2 separate regions of the Homo sapiens genome follow, and region 1 is linked to region 2. Evidence: fine-mapped expression QTL. Tissue or cell type: whole blood. Region 2 holds a variant in brackets; the other region holds the start of a gene. All regions are shown on one strand. Distances are between the middles of the regions.

What was found. PIP is the estimated chance that this variant, and not a neighbour inherited with it, causes the effect.
Region 1: it holds the start of RUBCNL, and the variant in region 2 is fine-mapped to the expression of RUBCNL in whole blood (TOPMed, PIP above 0.99).

Annotation. Positions count from the first base shown.
Region 1 is chr13:46,383,800-46,391,984 of GRCh38, reverse strand. RUBCNL (rubicon like autophagy enhancer) reads left to right here and starts at 4,733. Exons shown (of 15, transcript NM_025113.5): 1 at 4,733-4,851. RefSeq lists enhancers at 1,514-1,733, 2,054-2,193, 3,957-4,066, 4,087-4,186, 4,217-4,496 and 1 more.
Region 2 is chr13:46,355,357-46,363,541 of GRCh38, reverse strand. It overlaps RUBCNL (rubicon like autophagy enhancer), which reads left to right. Exons shown (of 15, transcript NM_025113.5): 6 at 329-427; 7 at 944-1,004; 8 at 1,969-2,101; 9 at 3,911-4,056; 10 at 7,046-7,110. Among named protein-coding and RNA genes, the nearest start is that of RUBCNL, 28 kb to the left of the region's middle. The variant G/T (reference allele first, on the strand shown) is at 4,724.

The DNA.
Region 1 (8,185 bases), 28 kb before region 2:
GCTGGATCAGAGAGTAAAATGGCAGAACTACTCTTCCTTCTGAATAAGGAGCTGCAACAACCCAAAAGCTGGGCCCTGGGCACCCCTAAATGGAAAGAAAAATAAATTAAGATTTATTTATTTATTTGATTATTTTGAGACAGAGTCTTGCTCTGTTGCTCAGGCTGGAGTGTAGTGGCACTATCCTGGCTCACTGCAACCTCTGCCTCCCGGGTTCAAGCGATTCTCCTGCCTCAGCCTACCAAGTAGCTGGGATTACAGGCATCTGCCACCATGCCCAGCTAATTTTTGTATTTTAGTAGAGGTGGAGTTTCACCATGTTGGCCAGGCTGGTCTGGAACTCCTGACCTCAAGAGATCCACCCACCTCCACCTCCCAAAGTGCTTGGATTACAGGTGTGAGCCACCATGCCTGGCAAAGATTTATTAACATTCATAGAGCCAGGCGTAGTGGTTCATGCCTGTAATCCCAGCACTCTGGGAGGCCAAGGTGGGAGGATTGTTTGAGCCCAGGAGTTCAAGACCAGCCTGAGAAACATAGGGAAACCCTCATCTCTACAAATAACTTAAAAAATTTAGCTGGGTGTGGTGCTGTTTGCCTGTAGTCCCAATTATTAGGGAGGCTGAGGTGGGAGGATCACCTGAGCCTGGGAGGTTGAGGCTGCAGTGAGTCATGATCATGCCACTGCACTCAGGCTGGGCAACAGAGCAAGAACCTGTCTCAAAAAAAAAAAATTAAAAGCAAAAAGGCTGGGTGTGGTGGCTCACACCTGTAATCCCAGCACTTTGGGAGACCAAGGCAGGCAGATCACCTGTGGTCAGGAGTTCGAGACCAGCCTGGCCAACATGGTGAAACCCCATCTCTACTACAAATACAAAAATTAGCTGGGTGTGGTGGTGCATGCCTGTAATCCTAGCTAGTTGGGAGGCTGAGGCACAGGAATTGCTTGAACCTGGGAGGTAGAGGTTGCACTGAGCCGAGATCATGCCACTGCACTCCAGCCTGGGTGACAGAGTGAGACTCCATCTCAAAAATAAATAAATAAAAATTAAAAAGAGAAATGAACAAAAATTCAAGTGAAGAATTTCCAGATGTAGGGGCCCTGTCAGCTGATTGCTTTCACCTGGGCTTTTACTCCAAAGAAGTATTACATCATGATAATACATTTATATTTTTTACATATATATGTATATATAAAATATATAAATAATATATACATATATACATACACCATACACATAAATATTTGTGGTAAAATATAACAAAATGTATTATCATAACCATTTTTCAGTGTACAATTCAGTGGCATTAAGTACATTTACAGCATTGTGCAACTATCACTACAATCTCTCTCCAGAACTTTTTCATCAACCAGACAGAAAATCTGTGTCCATCAAGCAATAACTCTGTATTCCCCATCCTGCCAGGCCCTGCCAACTTCTGTTCTACTTTCTGTCTCTATGAATTTGTCTCTTCTAGGCTCCTCATGCAAGTGGGTTCACACAGATGTGTCCTTTTGCAGACAGTGGCTGTTAAGTCAGGCAAGGAGGAAGAGAAACAGCCAAGCCAAATGCAGCTTTCCTCGGTTCTTTCCTTCCCTGGTGCTTGTCTGGGCTTCTCTCCCATGCAAAATCATCAGTCTTTCTTCCTGGGACTTCTATGTGGTGAAGATGCCATTAGGCACCCTCTGGTAGCTTATAATGCAGTTCATTTCATCTCATTTCCTTCCTGTTTTGTACAGAGACTGGTTTCCCCTTTGCTGACTGTCAGCTGAGTTCAAAACTGGGGTCAAAGCTCTGCTCACAGCACAAATCACTTCTTGTGAAGCCTGGCTGGGTTTTGGCAGGCAGCTGCTAGGCTTTCGGTCTTTTATGAGGCTATCCTGGCCACAATGGAGCTTTGTGTGTGATCAATGGGTGCTGGGCATGAGCCCGGCTGGGCTAGCTGACACAGTGAGTTGTCCCTGACACTCATGACTTTCAAGCCCTGTGTCTTGGAGGGCACTGTGATCTGGAAGTTCACCTTCCCCATGAAAAAACCCAAACCAGCCTCTCCTTTTCCTGCATGGTGATCCGTCTGTAATGATCAGTGACATTCTCAGAATTAACCAATCAGGAAATTCTTGGAAAGTCCACGCCTCAGCATTTAGTGCTTGGGAAATTCTACTTCCAGATCCCAGAGGGGACAGAGCAGATTTCCAGTGAGCATTCCTAACTTGAAAAACCTGTCCTTGAATGTTTCTCCTTAGTCCTAGAGATGCTCTTTCAGAATGTGAACCTCCTGCGTCTGTGACGAGATGTAGAAGGTCTATACTCAGAGTTAGTAGGATGTCCACGTGATAGTGCCTAGGCCTGCCTTATGGCAGTTTTGAGAAAGGTGATTTCAGAGTGGCTTCAGAGGGGATGACTAAAGCCCACAATCTTGGTCCAAAATATCCTAATCTCCCTACAAAAACGATTTTCTTGCCTTGGACTATGTCCAGTCTGCCAACTAGTACAGCTGTTTCTGGTTTTTGACTCACTGATTTACCTGGCATGACATTTCCTCTTGTTTCAAGATTCTTTCTCTAAGTTCCTCCTGACTCCTCTTTCCCTTTAAGTATTCCTGAAACTGGCTCTTGCCTGGTCCCTTTATTTCATTATTCTTCCATCTTGCTGGTAGTATGGTGGAAATTGGACATAGGGTTTGGTGTCAGATACACCTGCCTTCAAAGCCTAACTGTGCTACCTATTAGCTCTGTGACCTTGGGCAAGTTATTTGAACCTAAGTCATAGATTTCCCCCTTGCGAAATGGGAACAAATGATTTGTTATTCTCAGGGATGTTCACAGACTTGCTTAAAATAATAAGAAAAAGTACCTGGCACATAGCCGATACTCAAAAAATGTTAGCACACACCCACACCTTTTTCTTTCTGATTCATTTAAGGTAAGCCCTTCCCAATCGGCCTTCAGCTGACCTGAATTCCTGGGATACTGTATTTGGAATTTTAAATATTCCAAATATCCAGAGTTCTTGCAGGTCAAAGCTGGTCTATGCTCCAAACAGGCTGCCCCCAAGGGAAGCAGGGTAATTGGCAGCTAGTATTCATCTGACTTTTGTCATATTGATTCAATATTTTATCTGAAGATGGCAGCAACTAGTACATGGTGCCACCGTTTAGCCACTCCATGCCAGAGGTACCAGGCAAGTAAAAGCCAAATTACCAGTGCCTCTGCTCCATCCTGGAAATGACAAAGGACAAAGCCAAGGAACCCAGGAAAGTGCAACGGGATTTGGTTTTATGCAGCAGGGAATCTTCTAAGAAAGCCAGGACCGGTTCACCTACGTGTCATTACCAGTGCAGGCAGCTCAGAGGTCCTTCCCCGGGAGAAGTCAGGGCACCGCGAGAGAGAGCTTAGCTTCCTTCCTTCCTCCATCCCTCCCTCCCTTCCTTCTGGGACTTAGGTTCCTTCCTTCCTTCCTTCCTTTCTACTTTTCTTTCCTTCCTTCCTTCCTTGGCTTTGGTTCCTTCCTTCCTTCTACCTTCCTTCCTTCCTTCTTTCCTTCCTTCCTGGGCTTAGGTTCCTTCCTTCCTTGGCTTAGATTCCTTCCTTCCTTCGCCCTTCCTTCCTTCCTTTCTTTGCTTTCCTTCCTTCCTTCCTTCCTTGGCTTAGGTTCCTTCCTTCCTTCCTTCCTTCTTCCCTCCCTCCCTCCCTTGGGTTCCTTCCTGCCTGCCTGCCTGCCTTCCTCCCTCCCTCCCTCCTTCCCTTCTTCTCCTTTCTGTTTTTTTTTTTTTTTTTTTTTGACAGTCTTGCTCTGTCGCCCAGGCTGGAGTGCAATGGCGCGATCTCGGCTTACTGCAACCTCCGCCTCCCGGGTTGCTCCTGCTTCAGCCTCCCTAGTAGCCGGCATAACAGGCACCCGCCACCACGCTCGGCTAATTTTTATATTTTTAGTAGAGACAGGCTTTCACCATGTTGGCCAGGCTGGTCTCGAACTCCTAACCTCAAGTGATCCATCCGACTTGGCCTCCCAAAGTAGGTGCTGGGATCACAGGCTTGAACCACCGCACCCGGCCAGAGCTTAGGTTTCTATTCGTGACAACTTTCTGTATTGGTTGGCAGGTTCTCCTAGCACCACCATGATCTCAGGACTAACCACTGCACACCCGTGATGGGATTCCAAACCTTCGCTGCAAGAGGACAAGGTGACGAGTTGCTGACAGTGAAGGCTAAACTAACGCGGACAGTGAAGTGCTACATGAGTCGGACTCAGACTCCAGGTGAAGCAGCCAGCAGAGGTCAGAGAGAGACAGCTCACGTTCCGGGTAAGTTGCAGGTCGATTTCAGGGCCGACTCATCCAGATTACTCATTCTTCATTTCAGGCAATTGTATGACTGCTAAATACTGCTGCTGGGGGCATCTGGGGTTGGGAAGTCATTTCTGCCAGGTCTTTGACCCCTGAAAGCGTCGTTGCGTCTCGCGCCGCGGGTAGGCAGGGCGGGATTTCTAGGAGGACCGGCAGAGGCGCGCATAGGTGCGTGGTGCTGGGCCCGGGCGCCGCGGCACCGGTGTAGGAGCGCGCATCTCCAGAGTTTCTTCCATCTGGGCGACGTCTCGGTGCCTGCGGCGGGAACGGCGCTTTGCTTCCCTGAGGAGCTTCTAGAGAGCTACGGTGGCCCCCGTGTGGGAGGCGGGGGGCGTGGCGGCGTCGGGGCGTCGCTGTCCCCTCCTCGGTAGCTCTCCTCCCTCCCCTTTCTGCTGTTACCGGGAGCGCGGTGGCCACGGAACGCTGCCCGGAGCCGCGCGAGGGAGGACCCGACGCGCGGCGTTTACCCAGCGCAGCGTTCCACCGCTCGGGTTTGGCTGGGTGAGGCTGGCGGGGCCGGGGGCGAGATGGGAGCGGCGCGGGGTGGAGAGGGTGGTTGGAGAAAGGGAAGGGAGGGCCGCGGGAGAGGTTGGATGGTGGAAGTGGCGCCAGAGAGGTTTGTGCCCAGCAGAGACACCCAGGTATCTTAGGGTCGCTCAGAGCAGTGTCGGGGACCCCTTGGAGACAGTAGGAAGGGGCTCCTCGCGGGGTGGCGGATTTCTATCCGGTTGACTTTGTAGAGTGAGGTTGACCCTGTGTTCGGCTTGGGCCGGGAAGGGCGCAGAAGCGGGACCTCAGGACACTTTTACGCAGGGCGATTCTCAGAGACTACAAAGCCTGCGCCCTGCGTCCTCCCAGGCGCAGTGTTCTGGGATCAGTGTCTTTTCTCTGTTTTCGTCCTCAACACAGCCAAAGTCGTGGATATGTGGTGACAGAAAAACATTTGGCTACATAACTGAGCTAGGCTGGAGTGTGAAATCGCGGCGTGTTATTTGGTCCGGGCGCCCTACATAGCAACCCCCACTCTTCTCGCCCCCAACCCCCCGCCACGCCGGACACGGTCAGGCGGGCGTTCCCCCAACCCGCCCCTTGTGAAGTCCACCTGCTGAGACTGATACAGATCCCCTGCGAACTTGATGCTGTCCGCTTGGAAAACGTGGAGAACTTTCAGAGGAGGGGTTATTTCGCCTTGAGTGAAAATTAAGACTCAAAGGAAAAGGTATACTCAAGAGCTGCCCTTACTGGGTTATTTCTGTGGAATTTGGAAGGATCTTTGAATTGAAGATGTGGTGGGAGCGCGCAGAGAACAGAGAATCCGTAAGCTTGAGTTTCTTAGACCCAGTTTCTTAAAGCCAAAGTAGCGGGGAGATCTTGGCAAGTCAAGAAACCTTCTTGAACTTCAGTTCCCTTGCCTCAGGGGGAGAATACTCCAGCCATACCCCACTGTGTGGTTTAGAAGGTTAATGGCCTGGAGGGAGGGAAGTGTTTTGAAGCCTATAAAGTATCCTGTGAAGGTATCACCACATTGCTGCCCACTGAAACACTGCCGGCCGCCGACAGAACTTTGTTTGGAGCCGAGTTAAGACAGCATCTTTATGGCAGTGCTGGGGTTTTCGTGATTACCGGTCCAGAGTGTCAGGACACCTCTGTTTCTCAAACCCCAGTTTCTGCACTGCCACATGAAACTGCTCATTACTGAGTGACAGCAGAGGACAGGAACTTTGCCTTCTTCATTAACTTCTTTAGGGCCTTTACAAAGTGGGAGATGGTAGGAACTTTGATGAAAATTGAGGGTCATAGCCTTGGAGCGGGGTGAGGGGTTAGATTTGACTGGACATAGTCTTCATGCAACCGTTTAACAACAAAAACATTGTTGGCTGAGTTCTTGTTTTTTGATACAAGGAACATTCTGTCGGAGCCAAGGTTAAACATCCAAGAGTAAACGTTTGTTGGTTTTTTTTTTTTTTTGCATGATCTTTAGAGGATAAGTAAAAAACTAAAGAAAGGCTGCATTGCTTGCTGACACATTTTTTCCCCACCCATCTGAAGGCACACAAATAATAGCACTGGCAAATTTGAATAGTTTCCCTTGTTACCAAATCTACGTTCTTATTTCTAATATGGAACGATTATTTCTAGTATGGAGAGAAATATGGAATTTCTAATATGGAAGATTTAGCATGGTGTGTCATTGTAAAAATTTAGGCAGTTCTTGGATAAGTATGTCCAGCCTTCCAGAGACTATAAGTGTAGTAATATTAGTGCCTGTTAGTCATATTGTGTATCTTCCTGATACCCAATTAGATCTCTGATTGTTTTTTCTTTTTAATTAAAAGGAGCTGAAAGATGACTCAGTTAAGAAGCTGGAAAATAAAACCAGGTCTCTGTAACTGTGCTGTCTTATTCTGAACTGAAAGTCTTTCTGCAATAATAATGATGGTGATAATAAAGCTAACCTTCATAGGACATTGTGTACCAGACTGATACACGTGCTACAATTCTGTTCGTTCTCACACCATCCTTCATGGGGGAGGTTAAGAGCATTGCTCAAAATCACACAGCTAATAAGTCATTTTTCTCAGATTGGCGTTAAAATTATATTTAATTGGGTCCTGTGTGTGCGAGTGTTTTAACTTTTGCATTGTCTTTTATCCCACACACGGAGGCAACATGGATGGTGAGACTAGGGGCTATGGACAAGGTTCCAGGGTTTGGACTTGAGCATGCTGCTGAGTGGCTATGTGGTCATCACTTTACTTCCTTTTCTAACCCGTAAAATGATGATAATAATTCTACATTGAATGAATCCTTTGTTTCTACTGAGCCCAAAGTCTGCTCCGTAAAGGTAAAATACTTCTCAGAGTGTAGAAAGAAAAGTTTCAGATTCAAGCCTTTTTGTCATCAGTAGGCTGGAAAATGAATAGAAGTTAGAATAAACTATACACTTAATGTGATTTTTCCAACAATTATGTTGAAAAATTGTTCAAAAATGCATTCATTCCAATGATCCTTAGCTTTATATTTATTAAAAGAAGTAAATGTAAATTAGACCTCAACGTTTTTTTTTAACAGGTAACGTTGAAAAGCACCCACAGTAAGCAGGTACTGTTTGCTGGTTGATTTTAGATGATGAAAATTGTAGAGTAAGTACGTTTGCAGAAAACTGTAGAGTAAGTACAATTATAGAGTAAGTATAAGAAGAATTGTATTCAAAGGTATTGTATTATTCTTATAAAGAAATGTATTCTTCTTATACTTTTTTACGTTCTTTTATTCCGACAAGCTAGAGTTGATCAGAAAAGAACTGAATTCCAAAAATATGTTTAGGGCACTTCCCTATTCTCTCTGTATTTACTTGGAAATGATTCTTAGAAGTTTTTGGCATGGGACTTTTAAGTTTGTTAAGTGAAGGGACTAGCACTTATCTATATGCATATTTTGCAAGTATTTTTAAAAATATGGCTCAATTGTTAAATCATTTTATTCGTCCCATGACTTATATAAAAATCTGGGGGTTTTTTGGTTGCTCACTTTTAGTTTAGGCTTGGTTTTATGGTGATCTGGGCTCAGGGAGGTAGACATGTCAATGTCATTAGCATTGCCAAGGTATAGGCAGTCTGCTGCATGCTGTGTGAATATTAATATTCTGAAGAGATATTTGAGTCCACAAGATTTAAAGATCTTCTGTTCACCGCTGTGCTTGTAGAATTAGGGCTAAATTAGTTTAGCCTGGGCCTCCTGGGTCTTGGTCATTTGAAAATAGCTCCTCAAGTAGGCTGGCTATGTGTCTTAGTATAGCAGAAACAATTCATTATTCACTCCATGTGTCGTCTAT
Region 2 (8,185 bases):
TCGTGTGATTTGCAAAATCAATTTCCTATTATTAAACGTTTAGATGCTTTCAGTGTTTCAATATTTTAAAACATTGGATGGACTGCAGATAGCTTCTTTGTGATGAAAGCCTTCCGAATAGCTGGGACTACAGGCACTTAATCATAGTGAGTGCAAAAAGAACACACAAATAGTTCCCCAGTTTTTTAATTCTTTAAGTTGAAATGTTTAATTCTCTTAAACTTTTAGCCCTCTTCATTTCCCAATTTCTATTTAGTTGGGTGTTGCAGGTTGTACAGTTTTTCTTTTTCTTCTTATTGGTAAAAACCTCCTTCCTTTCTTTGTCTAGGTTGTGCTGTGTTACAGGTCAGCCCAGTGACTGAAACACGTACTTACCATGATGTGAAAGAGATTTGCAAATGCGATGTTGATGAATTTGTTATTTTAGGTAAGATTTGGAAACTGTTTGGATGTGACTGGCTGCCTCCCCAATCCCATCCGCATACACACACTAACATGCATCACACACAACATTACGTTACAGTGGCATTCAAACCAACTTCTTCCAAAATCAGATTATGGCCCTGATATATATATATATATATATATATATATATATATATCTATATATATATATATGATGTTCTTGTTTCAAATGTCTGGATAGCTAATCTCTCATCTCACTTGTAGAGTTGAATGAAAAAGCAGATATTCATTATGGTCGGATATCTCTTTGGCCTCTCAGTTATATTTTGGTGAAATTTCAGATGAAATCCCATCTTTGATCATTATCTGTCCTCTCATTATCTGTTCTGTCCATTTCTCAGAACCTGAAGCATGGAGATGCTGAATAATTTGCTCTTTCTGAGATGCAGGGAGTGATTTTAGTGTTCTTATAAAATGGACTGCGATTAAATGAAACAGACTAAAAGACCTCACCACTCTTTCTTTTATTTTCCCACAGAGCTTGGAGATTTTAATGATATCACAGAAACCTGTAGCTGTTCCTGCAGCTCCTCTAAGAGGTATCTGTCTTCTGTGCACAGTGCACATAGACCCTTGGGCTGTCACCTCTGAGGCAGTGTGAAACCTAGGCCTCTGACATTCTGGGCCCACTTTAGCTAGTTCCAGTGATTTGTTCCCATGAATCTAGGAGAGTATCACCTAGAAATGAAACAATCACCCCCAAAGTTTCTATAGTGTTTTACAATATATAAAAGGCTTTTGTATGCATTTTCATTTAATCCTCATTTCAGTTAAACAGGTTGGGTGAATTTTATGTATGCATGTGTGTGTATATTTATGTTTTTGTTGTTGTTGTTTTTGAGACCGAGTTTTGCTCTTGTCACCCAGGGTAGAGTGCAATGGCCCAATCTCGGCTCACTGCAACCTCCGCCTCCTGGGTTCAAGCAATTCTCCTGCCTCAGCCTCCTGAATAGCTGGGATTATAGGCACCTGCCACCACACCTGGTTAATTTTTTTTTTTTTTTTGTATTTTTAGTAGAGATGGGGTTTCACTATGTTGACCAGGCTGGTCTTGAACTCCTGACCTCAGGTGATCCGCCTGCCTCAGCCTCCCAAAATTCTGGGATTACAGGTGTGAGCCACCATGCCCGACCATATATTTATGTATTTTTAAACCTCATTTTATAGACATAAAAATTGAGACTCATATATAGGATGTGCTTCGGGACACGAAGGCTGTGAGGTAGAAGTAGGGCTTGAATGCAGGTCTTCTGACTCTAAAGCCAGTGCTCTTTCACCACACCTCTAAGTCTTAGCGCCCTCAGTAAATAAAAGATGCTTTATTTATTGAACATGCAGGAGCCATGTTGAGTAAGATGCCTGGTGAGTGATTCATGCGTCATCTCATATGACAGCCTCTTCTGAGTTTTGGGGGCTGGGAAGAACAGTTGAAAACCTCAGGAAGACCCTGAACATACTCCTCATGAATATAGTTTTCCAGTATTTGCATCTCTTACATTTCAGTGTCACTTATGAGCCAGACTTCAATTCTGCAGAACTATTAGCCAAAGAGCTGTACCGCGTGTTCCAGAAGTGCTGGATACTGTCAGTAGTTAATTCTCAGCTGGCAGGTTCCCTGAGTGCAGCTGGCTCGATAGTAAGTATCAAAAAAAATTGACCTTGAATTGAAAGTTCCTAAATCCTCATTTTGCCTGCCCTGTTCACTTTAAACATTTGTCTTTCCTTGTATGGTCACTGGATATTAGGGGAGACTCAAAATGAATGAGGAAACTGGCATGTGTTGAGTACTTATTGTGTACCAGAGACTGTGCTCAGCAGTCCACATTATTTTATTTTATTTATTAATTTTTTTGAGACGGATTCTTGCTCTGTCACCCAGGCTGGAGTGCAGTGGCGCAATCTCAGCTCACTGCAACCTCCGCTTCCTGGGTTCAAGCGATTCTCCTGCCTCAGCCTCCCAAGTAGCTGGGACTACAGGCGCACGCCACCACGCCCAGCTAACTTTTTTGTATTTTTAGTAGAGACAGGGTTTCACCATGCTGGCCAGCTGGTTTCCAACTCCTGACCTCAAGTGATCTGCCCACCTTGGCCTCTCAAAGTGCTAGGATTATAGGCCTGAGCCACCGTGCCCGGCCAGCAGTCCACATTTTAATCCTCATAAGTATCCTGTTAGGTAGAGGCTGTCCTTATTTTTATTTTTAAGTGGTGGGCCCAGCCTCCCAGCAGGGCTGGTCAGCTGTGAAGCAGGAGTCATGCCCAGGCTGCCTCATTGGAAAGTACATGTTGGTTCCCTCATGGAACACACTGCTCACTGCTGTCAGAGAGCAAGCAGCCTTCTGAGGGTAGAGAACATTATGACAAAGGCTAAAACAGGGGTAGGGAAAATGCCCTCGAAGTGCAGAGGAAGGAGTGTTTAATTTTACCAGGGGAACTTAGGAAGGCTGACTGCAGATTTCAGAACTTGAGCTAAGTATTGGGCTGGCCAGAACTGTGGCAGGTAGAAAGGTTGGGGGAGGACGTTCTTGGCAAAGGGGAGCTGCAGCAAAAGTGGAGGGGCATGCTATGCCGTTGAGCAGAGTGATTCGCTGCGGTTGGATAATACCCGTTTGTGAGTATTTGTGTCTGAGAGGTTGTTCTTTATGGAAATAAGGTTTGAATGATAGTAGCCAAATTGTGGAGGATGTAGAATGCTAATTTGAGAAGTTTGGATTTTATTTTATTTTATTTTATTTATTTTTTAAGATGGAGTCTCACTCTGTTGCCCAGGGTGGAGTGCAGTGGCACAAGCTCGACTCACTGCAACCTCCACCTCCTGGGTTCAAGCAATTTCTGGCTAACTTTTGTACTTTTAGTAGAGACAGGGTTTCACTATGTTGGCCAGGCTGGTCTCAAACTCCTGACCTCAAGTGATCCACCCACCTCGGCCTCCCAAAGTGCTAGGAAAACAAGCATGAGCCACTGCACCCAGCTGAGAAGTTTGGATTTTAAATGACAGTAGGAAAGTCCAGTGGTTCAGCGGGGAGGCACTGAACATTTGTAAGCAAGGGGAAAGGTCTTAATAGAGCTGTTTCTGGGGAAGACTAATAATGATAGGGGTTCTGATTGGTAGCATTTGTCAGTCTGTTGACTAAGAGGGGTGAGGCTTCTGCTATTCATAAATGCATTCCAGGTCAAAATGACCTACTTACAGTAAATTTGAAGTCTGGAAATAAATGAACTAAAAATACTAAGAAAAGTGATCTCATCTGGGTGGTGTTTAAAGCAATTCTCTTGCAGATGGCTTTAGAGATGTGGAGGGCTCTTGGTATGCCCTTTAGTTCAGTTAAAAGCACTGTTAATTTTTCATGGTAAATTTTAATGTTGGAAATACATTTAGATGTTTCTTTAATTTAAATTCTTTGAAATATGCTTAAGTTGTTCCTAAATCATTTTATGTCTTATGCAGGTCGTAAATGAAGAGTGTGTCCGAAAAGACTTTGAATCCAGTATGAATGTAGTACAGGAAATTAAATTTAAGTCTAGGATCAGAGGGACTGAAGACTGGGCTCCTCCTAGATTTCAAATCATATTTAATATTCATCCACCACTCAAGTAAGTATGGGCTGTTGCTTGGGCCTCCAATCCATTTAAATCACATTGTGACAGATCCCACCTGACTCTATGGCAGTAGGTGAAAAAAATACATATGCTAAAGAACACAGGAAAATTTGTTTTAGGGAAAGGAAAGTTGGCTGTATTTTCTGGCTTAGGTTTTTTTTTTTTTTCCTCTTGTTTACCATGGACTTTTGGGGGCTCTGTAAGTTTTGACAAGTTGAGAATTCAGCTATGCAACCCTAATTGTCAATATTGCGTAGCAACTGAAAATTAAATAGGCTTAAAGGGGATTTTTAAAAGTGGCTAATATCAAAACTTAAAAATTATATACAATAATTTTTTAAAATGTGTTTCCTTTTTAAAAAAATTAGAGATGGGGTTTCACCATGTTGCCCAGGCTGGTGTTGGACTCCTGGGCTCAAGTGATCTGCCCACCTCAGCCTCCCAAAGTGCTGGGATTACAGGTGTGAGCCACCTCGCTCAGCCTATGATAATTTTAAAAGACTGGACCACTTTATCTTCCAGAACAATCAGTGTGAAATAAAAATGAATGAATAAACTTCTAAAAAAGGAACATTTAATCTTAGGGAAAGCACTTATAGTTAAGAAATGTTACAGAGGCCGGGTACGGTGGCTCACACCTGTCTATAATCCCAGCACTTTG[G/T]GAGGCCTAGGCTGGGGTCAGGGATCACCTGATGTCAGGAGTTTGGGGTCAGCCTGGGCAACATGGTGAAACCCTCTCTCTACTAAAAATACAAAAATAAACTAGGTGTGGTGGGTGCAGCCCTCTAATCCCAGCTACTCGGGAGGCTGAGGAGCAAGAATTGCTTTAACCCAGGAGGCAGAGGTTGCAGTGAGCTGAGATTGCACCAGTGCACTCCAGCTTGGGTGACAGAGCGAGACTCGATCTCAAAACCAACAAAAGAAATGTAACAAAATGTAAATAAAAATATGTTTGTTCTCTAAGAAGTAACAAAAGTTCTAAAAGACAAAACAACTAAGATTATGCAAAAAAGGAAATAAACCTATAAATTTAAAGTAATAGTTTAATTGTAATTTGTTCCGAGACTATAGGACAGATTATGATCAAAGATTATACACAAAACATTTTAACCAAGTATAATTTTTCCATCCCTCTTGGTTTGTATTCAATTTGGTGTGCAAACTGCCAAGCATTACAAAGGGACCGGTGAGGGTTGTTGACTGTGCCCAAGGGACTGGAGAGAGGTTGACTCTGCCCCACGGAGGTGCCTTATAGACTAGATCTTTCTTTTGTTTTTCTTTTTTTGAGAGAATGCCAAGAAAGTCTGTGGGGCTGCTTGGGCAGAACTCCCTGTCTAGGCATCGTGAGAGGTTGCTTTCCTTAGCCTGGGGTATCTTTTCTTTAGGGGTTTCCTAGGTCCTCACTATGGCACCTGGGCAGAGATTTAGCATATTTTTACCTTGGCCATCTTTTGCTGATCCTGAACTGTAAACAAATTTTACAATTTCCTTGGTATTTCCAAGTCACATGTAAAACTATGGGATAAACAGTTCAATAGAAAATCCCTCAGGCCGGGCACAGTGGCCAATGCCTGTAATCTCAGCACTTTGGGAGGCCGAGGTGGGCGGGATCACCTGAGGTCAGGAGTTCAAGACCAGCCTGGCTAACATGGCAGAACCCTGTCTCTACTAAAAATACAAAAATTAGCCGGGCATGGTGGTGCATGCCTGTGGTCCTAGCTACTTGGGAGGCTGAGGCAGGAGAACTGCTTGAACCTGGGAGGTGAAGGTTGCAGTGAGCTGAGATTGCACCACTGCACTCCAGCCTGGGCAACAGAATAAGACTCCATCTCAAAAAAAAAAAAAAAAGAAAGAAAATTCCTCAATGGAATGGAATATCTCTTACCAGAAATGATTTGATTTCTTTGTCTTACGTTACCTCTTATTCGTCTAAATTTCTTTAGATCCATTTGTGAATTTCCCAAGTGCATCATCTTTTGGTGTATGGCCTCCCTGAGCTGTCTTCCTTGTATAACATGTCTCTGGTTCTCTCTGGAGCTGGAACCCTGTACACGGGCATCGAGACCTCCCTAAAAACCCCTTGGAGTTATCAGTGACGCTGACTTCTGCTTTGGTTTTAGCAGAAGCTTTTTTTTTTTTTTTTTTTTGAGACGGAGTCTCACTCTATCGCCCAGGCTGGAGTGCAGTGGCGCGATCTTGGCTCACTGCAAGCTCCGTCTCCCGGGTTCACGCCATTCTCCTGCCTCAGCCTCCGAAGTAGCTGGGACCACAGGTGTCCACCACCACGCCCGGCTAATTTTTTGTATTTTTAGTAGAGACAGGGTTTGGCCAGGATGGTCTCCATCTCCTGACCTCGTGATCCGCCTGCCTCAGCCTCCCAAAGTGCTGGGATTACAGGCGTGAGCCACCGTGCCCAGCCTAGCAGAAGCTTTTAAAGAGATGTAGCTTTAAGGCTGGGCACGGCGGCTCATGCCTGTAATTCCAGCACTTTGGGAGGCCGAAGTAGGGGGATGACTTGAGGCCAGGAGTTCGAAACCAGTGTGGGCAACATAGAGAGACCCTATCTCTACCAAAAAAAAAAAAAAAAGTAAATAAAGCCAAAAAAAGCTAGCTGGGCATGGTGGCGTGTACATGTAGTCCTAGCTACCTACACAGGAGGCTGAGGATTGCTTGAGCTGAGCCGAGGAGTTTGAGGCAGTAGTGAACTATGATCATGCCAGTGCCCTCCAGCCTGCGTGACAGAGCAAGACCCTGTCTCAGGAAAAAAAATGAAAAATAAAAAAAATTAGTCATAGCTTTAAAAGACCCAGGGATTTCAACTAGAAAATTGTATTGAATAAATCTATTTCTTTCCCAAATGAAAAGTGACAAAGTTAAGGCCCTTAGTTAGAAAAGTATCACGATGGCAATTTCTTTTCTAATTAGTGAAAAATGTGCCATTGGCCTTCTCTGAAATGTAACTAGTATTATTTTTCGTATTCAGGAGGGACCTTGTGGTGGCAGCCCAGAATTTTTTCTGTGCCGGCTGTGGAACTCCAGTAGAGCCTAGTAAGTACGGATAATGGATCGCCTGCTTATGATGTGATGACAAGGTCCAGAATAGCAAAGTAGGGCAGCGCATTGCTTGTGTGAGAGATGCCTTTGATGAGAAGTTGTTATAAGAGCTTCAGAGAAGTTGCCCTCCTTTTCATGAGGAGTCCATCATGACTGACAAGGCTGTGTGATCAACTAGGACCGAGGACACCAGGACCAGCCTCCTAGTTCTCTCCCTGTTGGGCATCAGCTCCAGCCACGTGGCCTCCTGCTGCCCCTTGAAAATGCCAGGCTCACTTCTGACATATTTGCGTTTGTGGTTTTCTCTCCCCCAAATGCTCTCTCTGCAGACACCCCCATGACTAATTCCTTTGCTTCTTTCACATTTTCACTCCAAAGTCACGAGGTCTTCCCTTGCTGCCCTATCTAAAATACCTGTCTTGCCCCACTGCTGGCCACAGACAATCCCATGAACGCTTTATATTACCCATCCTTATTTTTTTTCTTTATTTTCTTGCACAATATTTTCTTAGAAGTTCCTTCTTATTTTGTATTCTTAGCACAGTCTTTCTAAAATAGTCTCTTATATTTTACTAATATGTCTTATTATTATCTGTCTTCAACACTAGATTATAAGTTCTGTGAGGCCACATGTGTTGTCTGTTGTATTTATTACTTTATTTCCAGCTTCTAGAAGAGTGCCTGGCACATAGTAGGTCTTCAAAAGATATTTGTTGAGTAAAGGAATGGCTTAACAAGGAGCTAGCCAAACTTCTCTGAGAGTTTGAGGAGGTAGCCTGAGAGGATCATTCCTGGGCCAACTGAGGCCTAGAAGATTAGGCTTTCCTGGGCCAGGCACGGTGTCTCCCACCTGTAATCCCAGCACTTTGGGAGGCTAAGGTGGGTGGATCACCTGAGGTCAGGAGTTTGAGACCAGCCTGGCCAACATTGTGAAACCACATCTCTACTAAAAATACAAAAAAATTAGCCAGGCATGGGTGGCAGGCTCCTGTAATCCCAGCTACTCGGGAGGCTGAGACAGGAAAATTCCTTGAAACCAGGAGGCAGAGGTTGCAGTGAGCCGAGATCA